Homo sapiens: one gene and its partner. The protein of the gene in region 2 purifies or fractionates together with the protein of the main gene of each other region. This does not show direct contact. Each region holds a gene or a part of one and is shown on either strand. Other genes may lie near its edges.

Region 1 (8,864 bases), on a different chromosome or scaffold from region 2:
TTAGCCAGGTGTGGTGGCGCTCGCCTTTAATCCCAGCTACTTGGGAGGCTGAGGCAGGAGAATTGCTTGAACCCCGGAGGCGGAGGTTGCAGTGAGCCGAGATTGTGCCACTGCACTCCAGCCTGGGCCACAGAGCAAGATTCCATCTCAAAAAACAAAACAAAAACCCAAAACCCACCGTTTTATAAAAACAGAATCTAGACCCCATGTCCCCACAGCAGGGGGATAGCATTTAAGGATTGAGCCAGAATTACCAGCTCTGCTTCTAAGTTGGGAAGTTGGCTTTAAAAGGGAAAATCTAAACAGAAACAAAACTATGTCTCTATTATGAATGACATATTTGGGGGAATATCAGAATTTTTAGGGTGCAAATTTTCTCAAGTGTTTAACAGATGTAGTAAGGCTTATTTCAAATTGAGTTCCATTTTCTCAACTATTTCCATCATTCCCTAGAACCTGAAACCAACTCCTGACTTTACTACCTGTTTCTCAAAAAATTGTCTCTTCCTCTCCCTCCCTGCCACTACCCTTCCCCCTCTTATCTATGCTGTCCCCAGAAAAATCCATTGGAAACACTTCTCAACATGTCCTCGACTGGCTTATAAGCCTTTCCAAGCCCCACCTTAATTAAGAGATGCTTATTAGCAGGTATCACACAAACCAGACATAAAGTGAGGAACATGAGATCCCTGGCCTCAAACTTGTACTACTTAGCTAGATCTGTCCTATCTGCCATCTCTCCTTTGGCCATTTTGCCCCTCACATTTTACTCTATTCACTTGGAATAGCATTCAGTTCCCTCGGAACATGACTTTGTGTTCCTTCTTCCCTTTGAAAGGTTCTTCCCCACCCTTCTTTAACCAGGCTAACTCGACTCACTCTACATGATTCAACTTTGGATGTTGTCTCCTCCAAGAAACATCCCCCGAAGTCCTGGGCAGAGCTAATTTTTCTTCCTACAGTTTACCCACAGCACCCAGCAAAAACCCTTGTCATAGCACTTAGCAAACTCTAAGGAGATTAATGTGCATTTGTCTTACTCCCCAACTATGCTGTAAAGCTCCTTGAGGACATGGACCATCTCAGCTACTTCACAGCCCCAGAACCTTGTGTGGTTTTGGCTCAGGAAGCATTTAATTACACATAATTTGTTACATTCATTTAGAGAAATGATCCTCTATGAAAATATAACTATATATTGAACATAATATACATTTTAATACCTATTTATAAGTATTTATTAAAATGTTTTAATGCTTTAAGGAATATCAAAATTTGTGAACAGCCAACCAGTCTAAAACGAAAAGGGCTGCTAACAGTGTTATGAATGGTGAACAACTAAAACTCTCATACATTGCTGGTAGGAGTGTAAACTGGCAGAATTTACTAAAGCTAAACAGAAATATACCCCGTGACTCAGCAATTCCATTCCTGTATATATACCCAACAGAAAAGATAAGAATGTTCTTAGCAGCATTATGCTTAACAGCCCCAAACTGGAAATAATTCAAATGTCCATTAACATTAGAATGGATGAATAAATTCTAGTATATTCATACAAATGCAAGAGCAATGAAAATGAACTCCTGCTATACATAGGAACAAAGATACTACATTATAAAATTAAAAAATAATCTGCGACGATGGGGTGAAAACAGTGGGGACCTCTGGAGGTGGTGAGGGTCATGGGTATCAACTGGGAACAGACACCTATAGGAAGCCTTCTGTGGCAATGGAAGTGTTCTCTAACTTGATCCGGGTGGTAGTTACACAGGTGAACACTGTAAAAGTTTACCCAGCTGTGCACTTAAGATTTGTGCACCTGTATTACAACAAAGTGAAGGAAAATTGCAACAAGAAAAAAGAAAACTTGTGAACAACTGTGTTAGGGCTATGCCAACAGCATGTACAGCCACAAGACAAAAAGCAAACTGATAAAAGTCTCTTTGTCCTTTCCCTATAACATGGAAAATATTTTTTTTAAAAAAGATTACTTAAAATGCACAAATGGTATTCCTTTTATTATAATGTTTTAAACTTGGCTTAAAGTTCAAAATACTATTTCCAGATAACTTTCCACTGTTACATCAACTAGGCAACTTTGTTATGTTTATGTTATATGTATCAGTTACTTATCAGCACAGAATTTTAACCACTCTGCTAAATTTTGAGAAAACAGCTAAACTCAATATAAAATTTGGCCTACAGAATTATAGTGGCTATTTGTTACTAAAAATATTCCAAAAGAAATTTACTTATTTTACTATATTCCATATTCTTTAACTTAAAATCTGCTGCCACTGTTTAGTAAAAGTGGGACAAATAAAATTCTTTAAAATATAGAAAATACAGTTCCTGTTAAGATTTTGCAAACAAAAAAATTAATAAATAATACAATTTGAGTACTCTAAAACAATATACTTTGTAGTCTAGATTGTGGTTTTGGTCAGTATGTCTGACACTATGAAGATTTACATCAGTTCAGGGAATGAGTTCTAATACTATTAATAAATAGTCAATATAACCAAACACCTGACAGGATTCCCCATATGAATATTTTTAGGAAAGTATACAAATAAAAAGATTAACAGGTTTTTAAAATCCTTAAGAGCAAGAAAGAACAAAAGTATCTAAAACTTATACACGACAGGCAGAACCTGGGTTACAGTATACCTAAGGCAAGAGTGAATGTAGCACCCTGAGACACAAAACATCTTAAAATTACAATCTTATATGCGTATATATAAAATAGGACACTTTCTATTGGTTATGTGAACTAGATTATAACCTACAAATCTTAGTATTAACCAGAACTTCCTGACTGGCTGACATAGCACATTAGTGAGATAATACAGGTGGTACTTGAGACTTTGAAACCTTTTTCAAAGACTTTCTTCGCTTTTGACTTTGATGCTGTCACCTTCAAGGCACCAGTCCAAGTGCTCATTAATCTGAGACTCCAGAACTTCATTCTGACAAACTGGGCAATTAACCATTTTGCTCTGACTGGATGAACTGCTGGAATTCTGAGCTGTGGTTGTACTATACTTTGGATCATTACCACTGCTTTTTATTTGCTCTTTCTTGATAAAAAAATTGTCAAAAACAGTCTTATCTTCTAGCCTAGGTCGTTTATTTGGGAATGTATCTTCAGACCCACTCACATCCTGGGATGGCATCACAGATGCTGATTCCGTTACTTTTGAAGAATTTCTTAGGGATATCTTAGAAGATGAAACCCTTCTCTGAGAACTAGAAGAGACTGAGTTTTTAGGGATGTTGCCAACTGTTACACTTATCCTTGGAGATCCATTCACACCTCTGAAAGCCTTTTGGTTGGCAAATGATACTCTAGGAAAGTAGTTGCTTAGAACATTTTGGTGACTGTTACTAACAGCAGGGGAGACCAGATGAGAATTTTTACTTGAACCATTCTGTTCAAATTTCACCTTGATTTTAGAATTAGGTCTTACAGCATTTGCTGAATGGTTTTGATTTAAAAGATCTTGGGTTTTATTAATGGCATGTGAAGTGATCAGTTTCCCAGGTGAAGGTAAATTGCTTGTTTCTCCTAGAACATATCCTTTCCCACTAAAAGGGATTACTAGCTGGGCCTCACCTCTGTTGGGTTTATCTGCCAAAAAAGCAAAGAAGATTGTTATGTAAGTGCCTCAACTCAAAAGAAATACAGTAACAAACATTAAACTAATGTACAGTTTTCTCAAAATGAAGAACTAGTATTTTATTCCATCTTACATCCATACAATCCTATTAATGGGAGGAGGGCAATCTTCAGAATTCAGGAGTTCTGATATTGAGAGAATATAAAGGATAAAAAAAAATTCTCTCATATTTAAATAAAGAATCTTATCATGCCAAAGACCAACAACAAGGCAACATTTACCTTGAAAATTGCTTAGTGTCCTTTATGTGTAATTCCAGGAGGGAAAATCTGCTGCCTCATTCTTATCTTTCCTTCTACTCACGAAAATGAAGATACGGTCTTTCCATATCAATTCATCTATAGCTCTTTCACTCAATAATTAAAGATTTGGGAAATATAACCTATGTTCTTGGGTCAACAACTTCCCAAGGGAAGAAGCATCTTCAGTAACTCTGAACTTCACAGGAAAAGGGTAAATCTTGAAGATGAAGTACTGGCAAATATATGTCATATCCTTTTCCCATTCTTTGAATGAACATACATACATCAATAGAGTCACTTGGATAGAATCCAGCTGATAGGAAGGGGTGTAGTTAGGACGTATATTCCGGGCATTGTTACTTGAATTATTGTTTTTATTTTGACAATCTTTTTGCCTTCTGTTTCCTAATAACTCAGTGAGTCAAGATAGGGAAAGGAACTTTACCTCAAATATTATCAGAGATTGAATTTTGTTTCTTTGAATAAAAAGAAACTGAAAAAAGTTAATAAAAATAAAAATATCCATGGAAACTATTCCTACTTTTACTTACTTCTGTACAGAGCAAAGTCTGTTTTCCTACCATCATTTCATGGACAGTGGGATTTTTTCCTTAAGTCTACACTTGAAGACTTCTACACCAGAAACGATCCTTAAGTTTATCTTAATACCAGTTCTCTGAAGGACAGTATTGTCTTTACATCATAGCTATGGTCACATAAAAATCAGAAGAATATACACGAAGGTACCTTTATTCTCTGCGGCCAATACTGGTTCCTTTCCTAGTTTTGCCTTTCCTTTGCCTTTTTTTGAGTAATTCTCTGGTTCCTTGATTTTTATGTAAGTGCCTCCACAGGTTTTCTGGTGCTCAGCCCACCAATAGTCATGAGCAGAGGGTTCCCTGTTAGTAGCTCGTTTGACATAGCCGTAATACGGTGGCCTGTGCTGGCACGGCCCATTGCAGCGCCACCAGTGTCGCCGATACTCATCCACCTCATCGTGAAAAGTATGGTATACCTGAGTGGAGACAGAATTTTTAGTATTCAATAAGCAAGTTAACAACTGCAAGAAAACAATTTACATAAGCAGTCTTTTTTTTTTTTTTTTTTTTTTTTAATTTTTGAAACTTTCCCAGAGCTTTCTGAAAAGTTCTATTTTAGGAGAGAAAGCAACTATATTTAGTTTCTGTTCAAAAGTTGATTTTAATGGGAAACAGCAGCAGTTAATACTTCATAAACTGTGTAAAGATAGATGCACATGGGATTAGAGGACAAAAAAATCTTTTAAAAACAAAACCACAGAAAATCTTCATGAACACTAAAAGTTTCAGAAATCAAATTTGTAAATGATCAAAAATTAGGATAAAGATAAGATTTTATGTAATACCATACTAAAATAAGAATCATTCCCACTGCTAAATTGAAGTTTTCCCTATAAGTAAAAATAGCAAAGGGTTCTAAAGGACTACATTACTCCCTATAAATGCCTGACTGACGCTAACAACACAAGTATCTTACCCAGTGAAGCTTCTGCTAAGCTCACTCTCCACATTCTCCAAGTTCTGTGCTTATGTCTCTGTAATAAGCCTTATGAGGTACCATTTTATCTGTTTATAAATATTTCTATTACCAGACTGAAAAGTTCTCCAGGATCTGAATGTTTTAATTTTTTGTGTCCCTAGTGGCTAATATAGTGCTTTTGGCACCAAGAAGGTGCTCAGTCAGAAAAGCATCATTCATTGAGTCAAATAAAATTCTCTGAAGTGTGCTTTTCAGGCCTTAAGTAGGATGCCTTCTTTTTCACCCTCTAGACAAAAATCCTATTTGGAACCCAAGCAGAAAACAGGTAAGGGAAAAGACCTGACTGAAAAGAGGGTCAGCCCTCCCAGCATGGTGGCACTGAAGACTATAGAGCACCATTTGAAATGACTCCTAAATGACTATGGGCACCTTATTCTTCTGCCTTCTCAGTGGAACTCTCTGTGTAAGAGTGAGAAGCATCTGTATGTAAGATTTTGGTGTTTTACCAAAGACATTTAGCTTTCTAATAAATTCCCCTTGTGGGAAAGAATGCTAAGCTTTCTATAACTCTATAGATAGTTTTAAACTCACTATCGCTCCATCCTAAGCAAAAAATTTCTACTTGGTAAGCATGCAAAGAATGCACATTATATTAAATGCAGAAGGGACTGAAGGACATAGGTTTTAAGGCAAAGAAGCACGGGAAACCACGCACTCTATTATGTTCAGAACTCTTAATTCATTACCCAAAAAGAGAGACAAATGGATCTGTTTTGTTTGTTTGTTCTGTGACATGGACTTGCTCTGTTTGCCCAGGCTGGAGTGAGGTGGCATGAACCTGGCTCACTGCAACCTCCGCCTCCCAGGCTCAAGTGATCCTTCCACCTCTGCCTCTCGAGTAGCCGCGAATACAGGCGTGAGCTACCACGATTAGCTAATTTTTGAATTTTTTTTGTGGAAACAAGGTCTCACTAAATTGCCCAGGCTGATCTCAAACACCTGGGCTCAAGTTACCCTCCCACTTCGGCCTCCCAAAGTGCTGGGATTACAGGCGTGAGCCACCACACCCAGCCTGGATCTGTTCTGCTTCCAATTCCTGTAACTCCTAACGCTTGGGAATGTGACTTTTAACAATGTAGTCACTAAAATAAAATTACTCTACAATGTAGATACCCTGCAGAGTTCCTTATAACAGGATGTAACCTGTAAAAGCAAGGAGTGTTCACTCCTTACAACCTCTCCTAAATAAAAACACACAGATATCTAAGATAAAAGAACAGATACTCTTCCAGCTGAACAATGGGACGTATACAAGGGCTTTGCTTAAAGTATAAGTTCTGGTTAAGAAACTTAATGTATTTTATACAAGCAAGTCTATAATTCTCTTGCTAACCCGGATTTTATGTCTGATTTTTTTAAAAACTGCAAGACACTTTCCTAATGTTGAAGTAACTGTGTCTAATAATGAAATGAAGTCTTTAGAAAATTAAAACTGATAGCTAGAAAATAGTAATACATGGAGAGGCCAGGCATGGTAGCTCATGTCTATAATCCCACCACTTTGGGAGGCTGAGATGGGAGGATCACTTGAACCCATGAGTTCAAGACCAGCCTGGGCAACATGGTGAGACCCTGTCTCTAAAAAAAAAAATTTTTTTTTAAATTAGCTTGACATGGTGGCACACATCTGTAGCCCCAGCTACTCAGGAGGCTGAGGTGGGAGGATCACTTAAGCCCAGGAGGTTGAATCTGCAGTGGGCTATGAATGCACCACTGCATCCAGCCTGGGCAACAGAGCAAGACCCTATCTTAAATAAATAAATAAACAAAACATGGCGGTTGAGCACTGTTCATTTTCTATCACAGTGGATTTTGTTGCCTTTTAAAGGAAGGAAATACCCAAACATAAGAAAGAATTTAATCTATCCTATTAATATTCAATTCAGTACATTATACACCTTATACAGATGTACTATAAAGATGGGCAAGACCTACCCTGCGTTCAAAAGTATGAAAGTAGCATAAAAAATTGTAATAGCTTAAATATCTGCTGAGGATTCAAAAGAGGGAGAAATGAGATGCCACTGGAACGATGAAAAGCATTCGGACACAAAACAGAGCAGTGGCACGCCTCAGGGAAGCTACACCTGAGGAAAGGCAGGGAGGTCAAAAGTGCAGTTAAAGAGACAGGACACAGGCAGCAGAGTTGGAGGCAGTAAAAAAGGAACAAGGTTATTTAATAAAATGAATACAATAAAACTAATATTTAATTAGTGTCAGATTGGGCTAAAATGTTTTGATGTGCTTTCTCCTTTAATCCTTTCTCCTCACAAGGATCCAACAGATAGGTATTGTTACTACTCTCATTTGCCATGGGTATAAAATGAGGCATAGGAAAGTTAATAATTGGTGGAGCCAGGATTTGAATCCAAGCAGCCTGACGCCTCCAGCTTTTTGAACCTGAGGCTTTGCTATCTCCTACAATGCTATACAGAGATATGAATCAAAGAAGAATTCTGATGAGGGAATGACATCTGCAATGGTAGCAGGATACAGGATGGACTAAAAAAGACAATAATAAGGAAACAAAGTTAAGAGATCATGATGATTCCAGAAGTGACGTACTGCAGGCCTGAATTACCTGTGTGTAAAATGTTGACTCAGAAGAGGTCAGAGGCCTCAGGGATATCACTGGCTCTGCTGCCATTCCACCATGTAGTCCCAGACAAGCCAATTTGCTTCTCTAGGCCTCTCGTTCGCTGTGGAAAATCCTCAAAGATACTTGTTTCTACCTAGTTCTCTACTTTTAATTAAATCTCAGGAGTTATTGAATAAACAACTACTAAACATCATAAATAGATATGGCTTTCTATACCGTTATATTGGCTCCAGTCAGGCTGTTGATGCGATGCATATGTTTACAAAATTCTGGACCATGCCCTTCTCGGTCTTTGTCGTTATTAGTGACAAATAAATAGGCATGTATCATTTCATGCAGGAGGGTCTGGAACATAAAATATTCAAATTAGTTTTAGAGTCTGTATGACACTTTGGAAAATATAAATTTTCTTATTCTATCTGGTGTCTAACCTTTTCTGTATCACAGGCTTCCTTCAGAACTGATAAAACTCATTCTAGGCCGGGTGCAGTGGCTCACACCTGTAATCCCAACACTTTGGGAGGCAAAGGTGGGAGGGTCACTTGAGCCCAGGGGTTGGAGACCAACCTGGGCAACATGGCGAAACCCTGTCTCTACAAAAAAATACAAAAATTAGCCAGGTGTGGTGGTGCATGCCTGTAATCCCAGCTACACTCAGGAGGCTGAGGTGGGAGGATCCTCTGAGCCTGGGGAGGTTGACGCTGCAGTGAGCTGTGATTGTGCCACTGCACTCCAGCCTGGGGGACAGAATGAGACACTGTC
Region 2 (8,864 bases):
TATCCTTTAATTCTATTCTTTTAAGGTCCTGTGAAACATTCTAAACATGTTATTAGACCTGCTATTTTGCAGCTACCTCAAGCTCGAAGTTGTGCAAAAGTAAGAAAAACATTTGGACACAAGGCACTGGAATCTTGCAAGACTAAAGAAAAAACAAATAATAAGGTGAGAAAGCCCAGGATAACGGAACTGACCTCAATCCCTCATCTTTCTTTTTGCAGGTTGTTTGGGGCCCCCATATCCAGAAATAGGAGTTGTCTGAGCTTTGTTTTGTTGTTGGGCTAGATAGCATAAAGCCCTTGGTAAACTTTTCAAAGTTGTACTCTGACATTGGAGAGTTGTAGTCTCACAAATCTGTGGTCTCTCTAAAGTTGTAAAGTTGAGTACTGGGTAGTGGAAATCTGGGGGTCTTGTGCCAGAGCAATGACCCTGTGTGAGAATGGGGACAGCAATGAGGGAGCCAGGGGCCAGAGTCAGTAGTCAAAAAAGAGGCAGGGATTTTCTCTACATCGCCAACTGGTCAACATCACAGTGTATCGTTGCCAGTTTAGGTCATACCAGAGGTTCATTTCAGAGCCAAATTCCAGTATAACAGGAGCAGAGAACTCCCTATACAGTGTAGTTGGGAGGGTTTGGGAAGCCTCTAGAGACAGATAAGAATTCTAACTTCCAACTATGTAGTGTCTGAATCACTCTTTGTAGGCCTTTCTAAACAGACAGTAACTTACACAAGCCGTGCAGATATGGGTTTGGGGATATATTCAATTGCTGTAGTGCTACCTGTCTTCCAGCAGAAGCAGACACAGGAGGAATAGGACTCAAGATAGGTAGGTTGGAATTTGAGAGTTATTCCATCTTAGCCATTTGTTTCCAGCTGAACTACTGAGGATTGGTCACATAGTTTCGCTTTGTTTTCCCTTAGTGAACATAAGGACAGAAACACGGAAGTGTAAAAAAATACCAGATTGGTACTAATCTTGCCTCTGCTGCTATCTTTGTTTATCTAAACAAAGCACCCATTCAACATCTTTTTATATCAGCAAAGTAAGGGACTTGAACTTGATCAGCACTTTCCAATATTTTTATATTCCTAAACTCTTTACTTTGTAAGATATTATTTGGAGAGATCCATTATGAATTTAAAAAATCATTTCATCATTTATGCATGCTATATAAGTAATTTTTAAGTAAAACATGTCTTCAATTTTAGATAAGTATATTATTGTTTTCACTTAAATATAATGTAATAATTATCACCATGTTACATAATTCCTTACTTTTATTTAAGAAGTGAAGTGGCCAGGCGTGGTGGCTCACTCTTTTAATCCTAGCACTTCGGGAGGCCGAGATGAGTGGATCTCTTGAGCTAAAACGTTCCAGACAAGCCTAGGCAATATAGTAAAACACTGTCTTTACAAAAAATACAAAAATTAGCTGGGCATGGTGGCATGTGCCTGTAGTCCTAGCTTGAACCCGGGAAGTGGAGGTTGCAGTGAACCGAGATGGTACCAGCCTGGTGACAGAGCCAGACTGTCTCAAAAAAGAAAAGAGAAAAAAGAAGTGATGCATGGTGTTTAACTTGTTTTAAATTATGTAATAGAAAGTATAATATGTTGACTAATTTCTAAAAAGTTATATTGCATTTGATTTTAAAATGGCATGCACTATAAATATAGAGCAAGATTTTAATTACATGTTATGACATCAAAAATACATCAATATTTCTTTCTTGGCAGAATTTTTGTAAATATTGCATTGCATATTTTAAAATAAAATTTATTAATATATTTCTTCCATTTTCTTCTTAAATGATCCAAGCTTAAGAGAAAATTTCAAGCTATTGTTTATATTTATTTTTGAATAAATTATAAGGTCTAGGGAATAAACCTTATTTCCAGTTATTGAAAAGCCCTACTGTATATGCCCATCATTAAAAAGAAAATTTAATGCCCATCATTAAATTTTCCATTTATTGATCTTTGAAGATCCAGAGACACACTGTATATAAGATCCTATGTAAGAATTTTGACCAAATGAATGTAATTTAAAGATTTTGTGAAAACTATCTCTAGGTGGATTTTGTAGAACCATTATCTTTATATTTCTTATTATCTTGTATATCAAAATCAGATAAATTATTTTCATCCTATCATTAATCAATGGTTACTTACTATGTATAGATTAAACAATATATGCCTAAATAACTATTTTAACCAACATAGGAGTGAAAACTACCATTTTGGCTGAGAGATACATTATCTGAATGACTAGGTAATGAGCATGTACTTCGATCTTTGCCAACCATGGCACATGCTCTCTTGATACATATTTGTCAGTTGTCAAACTCTTGTTAAAAAAGAAAAAGTACTCAAAATTATTTTTATTGATTGAAATAAAAATTTAAGTGGAAACATAACCCATCTGGCTTTAAAAGACACAAACGCCCTGAAACATCTTTGCAAATTCCTGGTCGAGGAAGGAATTGTAAATACTAGATCAGATAATGTATAGGGTTCCTTCCAATTCTAAATTTCCTCACTCTTACATTTATATATTAATTCAGGTATTGTGCATACACATATGTACATAAGGCAAAGTAACTGGATAAGTTACTAGTTGAAAATTTCAAGATAAATAGATGAGTGGGGTTTTCTCTCACATTGGGTGACTAGGATGGTGACATTCTTAGGGTGTTTCCCAGGATTAAATAGTCCTGAAAAGAGCTTTACTAATCCAGAAATGAGAATTAACCCAATTTGACTAAAATGGCAAAAATAAACAAAACATGGTGGGATTTCTGAATATTATGATATTCCGGTATTAGACAGATCGCCACTGTATGTGACCTGGGCAAATTATTTAAGTTTTTTGTGTCAGTTTACTCACCTGTAAAATGTGGACAATAGAATTACAAAGTGTTAGAGTTGTAAGGAGTAAATGAGATCGTACATAAAATGCTTAAGGCAGTACTTAAACATAGTAAGCTTTCAATATATTTAACTATAACTATTGTTTCCTTGTCTGATGGTCCTATAGTAAGGTAGTCTTTATAAACTTTTTGATGGATTTCTTTACTTTCAGATTTCTGAGGGAAATTCCTATTTGTTAAGTGAAAATTTATCAAGGGCTAGAATTTCAGTCCAGCTGTCTACTAACCAGGACTTTTTAGGTGCAACATCAGTAGGGTAAGTTAATGAGAAAATAGAAGCGTTGTCCTTTCATTCTTGCATTCTTTCATTATTATAACCATTCATGGAAAATAATTTTCTGACCTTGTACGGATAAATTGCCAAGATTCCCATTTGAAAGGAGATTTTATAGGAAACACAAGTTTAAAATGTTTTTAAAAATATTTCGATTCTTAAATATTATCATATTAATACTGGATTGTCTTCATTGTTTCATTAACTTGGGTGAGAACTTTTTGAAAATGTATGGCTAAACTTTTATTTAGTTGGACATAAATTATCTGATTAGTAGATTAGGCTCTCTTCCTCTCTCTCTAGCATTTTTTTCTTTTATTTTGGCATTATACATTATTTATTGGCATAGGTTAGATAAGCAACAAGGAAAGCAGTATAAATCTGCAATATTTATTAGTATTACTAGTGATGGATAAATGTTTGATCTGAGAGGTTAAAACTAGCTGTGGATATAAACTGACTCACATGACTGGGCTCTGTCCAGGTGCGGTAGCAGGTGCCTTCTATGTGCATTGGGGATGCAATGCCGAACCCTGAGCACATCTGTCTACAAAGAGCGGGCTTCCGGTCTTCGAGTTTCTCATCATGAAAAACACTTTTAACATTAAAAAAAAGTTTCTGGGAGGCAAAAAATTTAAGCCAATGCACACTCAATTATAACAGACAGGGTTTCGCTTTTGCCCTGGAGATCTCTGGTTGCTAAAACATCAGCCACTTGAGGAAGAGAAGAGGGGAAATTAGATACTAGACAGGGTGTGTTGGAAAAGCAAAAGGGGTTGGGAAGCCCTCCTGGCTGACCACACAGCCAGTGCAGTGATGGGCATGAGGCAGTCAGGACTGGTCTCTGCCAGTGCTGTAAGAGCTGGAAACTATTTTGACAATCACCTCTGGATGCCACTATCTGAATTTTTCCTTCATTTTTCATTAAATTCACACTAACAAAAGTGAGCAGTAAATTTGATTTACATAAATCTATTAAATTATCTGATTATTTCAAGGTTTAAAATGGCTTTATCTATGTATTTAAAATAGTAAATGCTTATTTCATTTTCTTAGATGTCAACCAAATGAAGATAAATGTTCTTTTAAAAGCTGCAGTTCCAATTTTGTTTTTGGAGAAAACATGGTAGAAAGAGTTTTGGTAAGATTTTGGTATATGTTTCTATTACTATATACAGAGCTGTCACTTTAAATTTCTAAAGGTAAATTAATTAAAAGTAATATTAAATTGAATTATACTTTTTAACTCCTGAGTTCAAACGCACATTTTCTTTCTTTAACTGGAAAGATTCTCCTGGGAAGCATGTCCTAGTTGTTAAAATAATAGAAACCCACAGAGGAAGGGAACTGTATAATTATAACATTATTACTGATGTGAAATATTAAATAGTTCTTTGACTTGTGTTAAACCAAAAGTACCCAAGGAAATCCCAGAATCATCTGCAATAGTTAGATAAGCTCAGTTGGTAATGATAGTTTAATAGTTTGTCGATGTCATCATTTTGTAACAAGATGCATTTAAAATTATTTGCCAGTTTGGTTTTTTTTTTTTTTTTTTTTGAGACAGAGTCTCGCTCTGTCACCCAGGCTGGAGTGCAGTGGTCCGATCTCTGCTCACTGCAACCTCCGCCTCCTGGGTTCAAGTGATTCTCCTGCCTCAGCCTCCTGAGTAGCTGGGACTACAGGCGCGTGCCACCACACCTGGCTAATTTTTTTTTTTTTTGTATTTTTAGTAGAGATGGGGTTTCACTGTCTTAGCCAGGATGGTCTCGATCTCCTGACCTCGTCATCTGCCCACCTCAGCTTCCCAAAGTGCTGGGATTATAAGCTTGAGCCAATTTGTTCTTATCAGTTAACCACAACCCTAACTTCAAGCTCTTACATCAAAAAGCATTATTATAACTTTCTTTTGCTAGCTTTCAGAGAAAATTCATAGTGCTTTACTTGCCTAGGAGAATATACTTGCCTAGTGAAAACCCCTCACGTTATTACCATCATCCTTATTTAATGTTCAGCATCCTCTTGCAATGAGGTAACTGCTTCTCTGATCCCCACAGAACTCTGATCTACAGTGGAAAATTTTACAGAAAAGTGAAAGCTGTGGAAAACCATGCCTATGGTTTTATCTGGTCCATCACATCTTCATACCTTTTCCAGCTTTCACTCAAGTCAGGAAAGTGGCTGAGATAGCTCGAACGTGCCTAGCTTGTCTCAGGGATACCAGTTACATGAAGAATCCCAAAGAAGCTGCAGAGATTTAAAAACCCATGTACGGATTTAGATTAATAAAAGAACCAACTCGTTAAGCCAGTTCATTCCATTTTTTTTTTTTTTTTTTAAGATGAGGTCTTGCTCTTTCACCTAGGCTGGAGTGCAGTGGCACGATCTCGGCTCACTGCAACCTCTGTCTCCCTGGCTCAAGGGATCCTCCCACTTCAGCCTCCCGAGTAGGTGGGACCACAGGCACGTACCACCACACCTGGCTAACTTTTTGTATTTTTGGTAGAGACGGGGTTTCACCATGTTGCCAGGCTGGCCTCAAATTCCTGAGCTCAAGCGATCCACCCGCCTCAGGCTCCCTAAGTGCTGGGATTATAGGCATGAGACACTGCGCCCAAACTCATTACAAAATTTTTAGGGCTTTCATATGTTAGTCATTTTAAAGGCTTAGTTTATTTAGGAACCCTTCTGTCATTCCCAAAATGAAGGTCAACTCACCAATCCTAGAGCTGTGACCTATGCCTTTGGATGTGAACCAAAATGGACCAGCCTCCATGGTGAATTTACAGGCAGTATATTTAGGCACATTTATTCCATATCATTTATTTCTAAGTTTGACACCAGATTAGCCACAGTGTCTGTAAAATGTCAGACAATGCTTTCCAAACCTCACAGGATCAACTTAACATTCAACTCAATTTACCAAACATGTACTGAGTTCTTACGGTATATAAAGCATTGATCTCAAATTTGGCTGCCTGTTAGAATCATTCTTTTAAGGATTTCCTATGCCTGGCCTCATCCCAGACCAATTAGCTCAGAATGCCTGTGGGTGAGGCCAGGTGTCAAGTGATTCCAATGTACAGGCAGGTTTGAAAACCACCTAAGTGGTTATGCAAGCTAAAGGAGACACTGGGCCCTAAAGGTGCTTATAATCTAATAAGAGCAGGCAGAGAGATACCTATACAAATAAACTATAGTCAGGACTACGGGTTTTGTTTGAGAAGGCACTTGTGCACATTTCCTGTGGGCATTTTAAATGCTTAAAGGAACCTCAACTTATAAAGGCTTATAAAGGAACCTGAACTATCTCTTTAAGTTGGTAATATCTTAAGGATAACAGGAATTATAGAGATAATTTGTGTTTGTCCTCTAATCCTGTAAATTTTTGGCCTTGTGATTTGGGGGCCAGGATGCACTCTTGGCTTATTGGCTGACTATGTGTTTTTAGAGTGAGTCATTTAAACTTTCTGTGCCTCAGTTTCTATTTTCTTAAAATGGAAATAATTATACCCATCTCTACCAATTTTGAGGGAATATCTTGATGTCTAGTTAAGTAATGTGAAAGAATTTTCAGTTCATAAGGGAAAAAATGTAAGCCTAAGTTCTTAAGTATCATTGTTCCAGTTCTCTGTGTTTTGCAGAGGGCTACACATTATCACAAATGTCATGTCAATTAGTCTTTTTTTGTGCAGGCCTTGATTACAACAGACATACAGAGCCCCAAGTAGCCTTAAAAGCTACTGTTGGCAAAATCGTCTGGGAGGAAAAGTTAGGATTTTTTCTAAAAAGATGTTCTCTGAGACATCTTGTGGGGGTCTCTGGATAACTTTTTTGTTTTTTTCCATAAAGTGGATAGCAAGAGTAAATTTCTGGGGATACTGAAATACCTTGGTATATGTTTCTATTACTATATACAGAGCTGTCACTTTAAATTTCTAATGGTAAATTAATTAAAAGTAATATTAAATTGAATTATACTTTTTAACTCCCGAGTTCAAAGGCACATTTTCTTTCTTTTCTTTCTTTTGTACCTCCTGGGCATCAGTTTAGTCTAGTGAGAGTGTGGAACATCTATTACCTTCTTTTGTGCCCTTAGACCTTTCCCATTGCCTCCGGGACTAGATCCCACCTGAAGTAGGCTGGTGGTAACTAGATTATGTTTTCTGAGGATTAGAACTAAGGCTTTCTAACAATAGAGACGATTTCTCTGTTCAGCACACAGAAAGTCCAAAACAAAAACATACCAGCTAGGTTTGCTTGCTGTGTTGAAACAGAAAAACGGAAGTGTCTTACTGCAAACATAGTAGGGATAAAATTAAAACTTTTATTAAATAAAATAATGCATCTTTTTCCGCTCTCAGGGTACTCAAAAACTCACCCAGCCTCAACTTGAAAATGATTCATATGCCAAGGAAAAACCATTCAAATCCATTCCGAAATTTCCTGTCAACTTTTTAAGTTCAAGTAAGAATTCTTTCATTTGTAAAACATTAGATTCACCTAGTTTGTCTCCTGTTTTTTATTTATTAACATTAATATTTAATATAAGTAAAATTAATATTTACTATAAGATTTAAAAAACCAATAATCCAGTGTTTCAAATATTTTGGTAAAGGTTAAAGCATATAAATATGATTATCTGATATATAAGCTTTAAAAATTTTTTGAGTTAATGCTATGGGGGAATTGATAAGGAGATTTTACACCAACTCAAGCAGTCTGAATTTTTAGAATCACTTACTACTAGAAGAAGCCAAGTAGATATATGTGGTAATAGGGGCAACAAAGAACTTTCACAGTAGAGAAAATGGGGACTTTTAAGTGTTTTTTCCCCATTTTCTCTTAGGAACAGACTCTATTAAAAATACTTCCCTAATTGAATCAGCTGCTGCATTCTCTTCCCAACCATCACGAAAATGCTTGCTGGAGAAAATTGATGTTATAACAGGGGAGGAAACAGAACATAATGTGTTAAAGGTCTGTATATCATGTTTTACTCTTTCTGGTAGCATTTACATACTTGGAATAAAGTTAACATGAGAAGAGGCATCTTTAAAAATACAGACAGAAGTATAGTTTTCATGGAGACTAAGTTGCTTAAATAAAAATGTTGGATGCTCTCAAAAATTGAACCAATAATTTATTTTCTTCTTGTGTTTGTATGTGTACCTGGCAGGAAAATGGGTTGTTAGGTTTACAACTATTCACATTAGTCCCTTAGAAATAAGACAGCCAAGTATCCTGCTTTAATACTTGCTTTTACAATTGGTGCTATTATTGTGATTAAATAATTCTACTTACACGTTTAACAATGTTGATAACTTGATTTCAGTCCAATAAGAATTTCGTTTTCCTTCTAAAAAAGTTTAGAATTTCATATAAAATTTAGCTTCCTTTAAAAAAGTTTAGAATTTCATGTAATTCAAGAATTTCACAGATACACACTACAGTATCACAGGATTTTAATGTTGAGTAGTATCACCATCAGCACAAGCACATGAAATGTAATTACTACAACTTTACCCTTTCCCAACAAGGCAGAAATTTCCCTTTGCCTTTCTCCATCTGCTTTTCTCTAAACTCTCTCCATTCCTCTCCACTTCCTCTATGATCTACAGACACTTTTATTTTAAGTGTGTCTCAAAGCATAACCCTTGG

What was found.
Region 1: the proteins of RANBP3L (region 2) and SPRTN purify together in Homo sapiens (affinity purification with mass spectrometry; 2 studies listed by BioGRID and IntAct, with this or other methods). This does not show direct contact.

The regions. Positions count from the first base shown.
Region 1 is NC_000001.11:231,347,380-231,356,243, reverse strand, and holds the end of SPRTN (DNA-dependent metalloprotease SPRTN), read right to left. Parts: intron 8,448-8,864; coding exon 8,319-8,447; intron 4,941-8,318; coding exon 4,673-4,940; coding exon of another isoform or gene 4,638-4,672; exon of another isoform or gene 3,635-4,637; coding exon 2,883-3,634; 3' UTR 1,221-2,882; downstream 1-1,220. UniProt on the Homo sapiens protein: DNA-dependent metalloendopeptidase that mediates the proteolytic cleavage of covalent DNA-protein cross-links (DPCs) during DNA synthesis, thereby playing a key role in maintaining genomic integrity.
Region 2 is NC_000005.10:36,256,260-36,265,123, reverse strand, and holds part of RANBP3L (ran-binding protein 3-like), read left to right. Parts: intron 1-25; coding exon 26-165; intron 166-3,081; coding exon 3,082-3,185; intron 3,186-4,259; coding exon 4,260-4,344; intron 4,345-7,567; coding exon 7,568-7,670; intron 7,671-8,052; coding exon 8,053-8,183; intron 8,184-8,864. UniProt on the Homo sapiens protein: Nuclear export factor for BMP-specific SMAD1/5/8 that plays a critical role in terminating BMP signaling and regulating mesenchymal stem cell differentiation by blocking osteoblast differentiation to promote myogenic differention.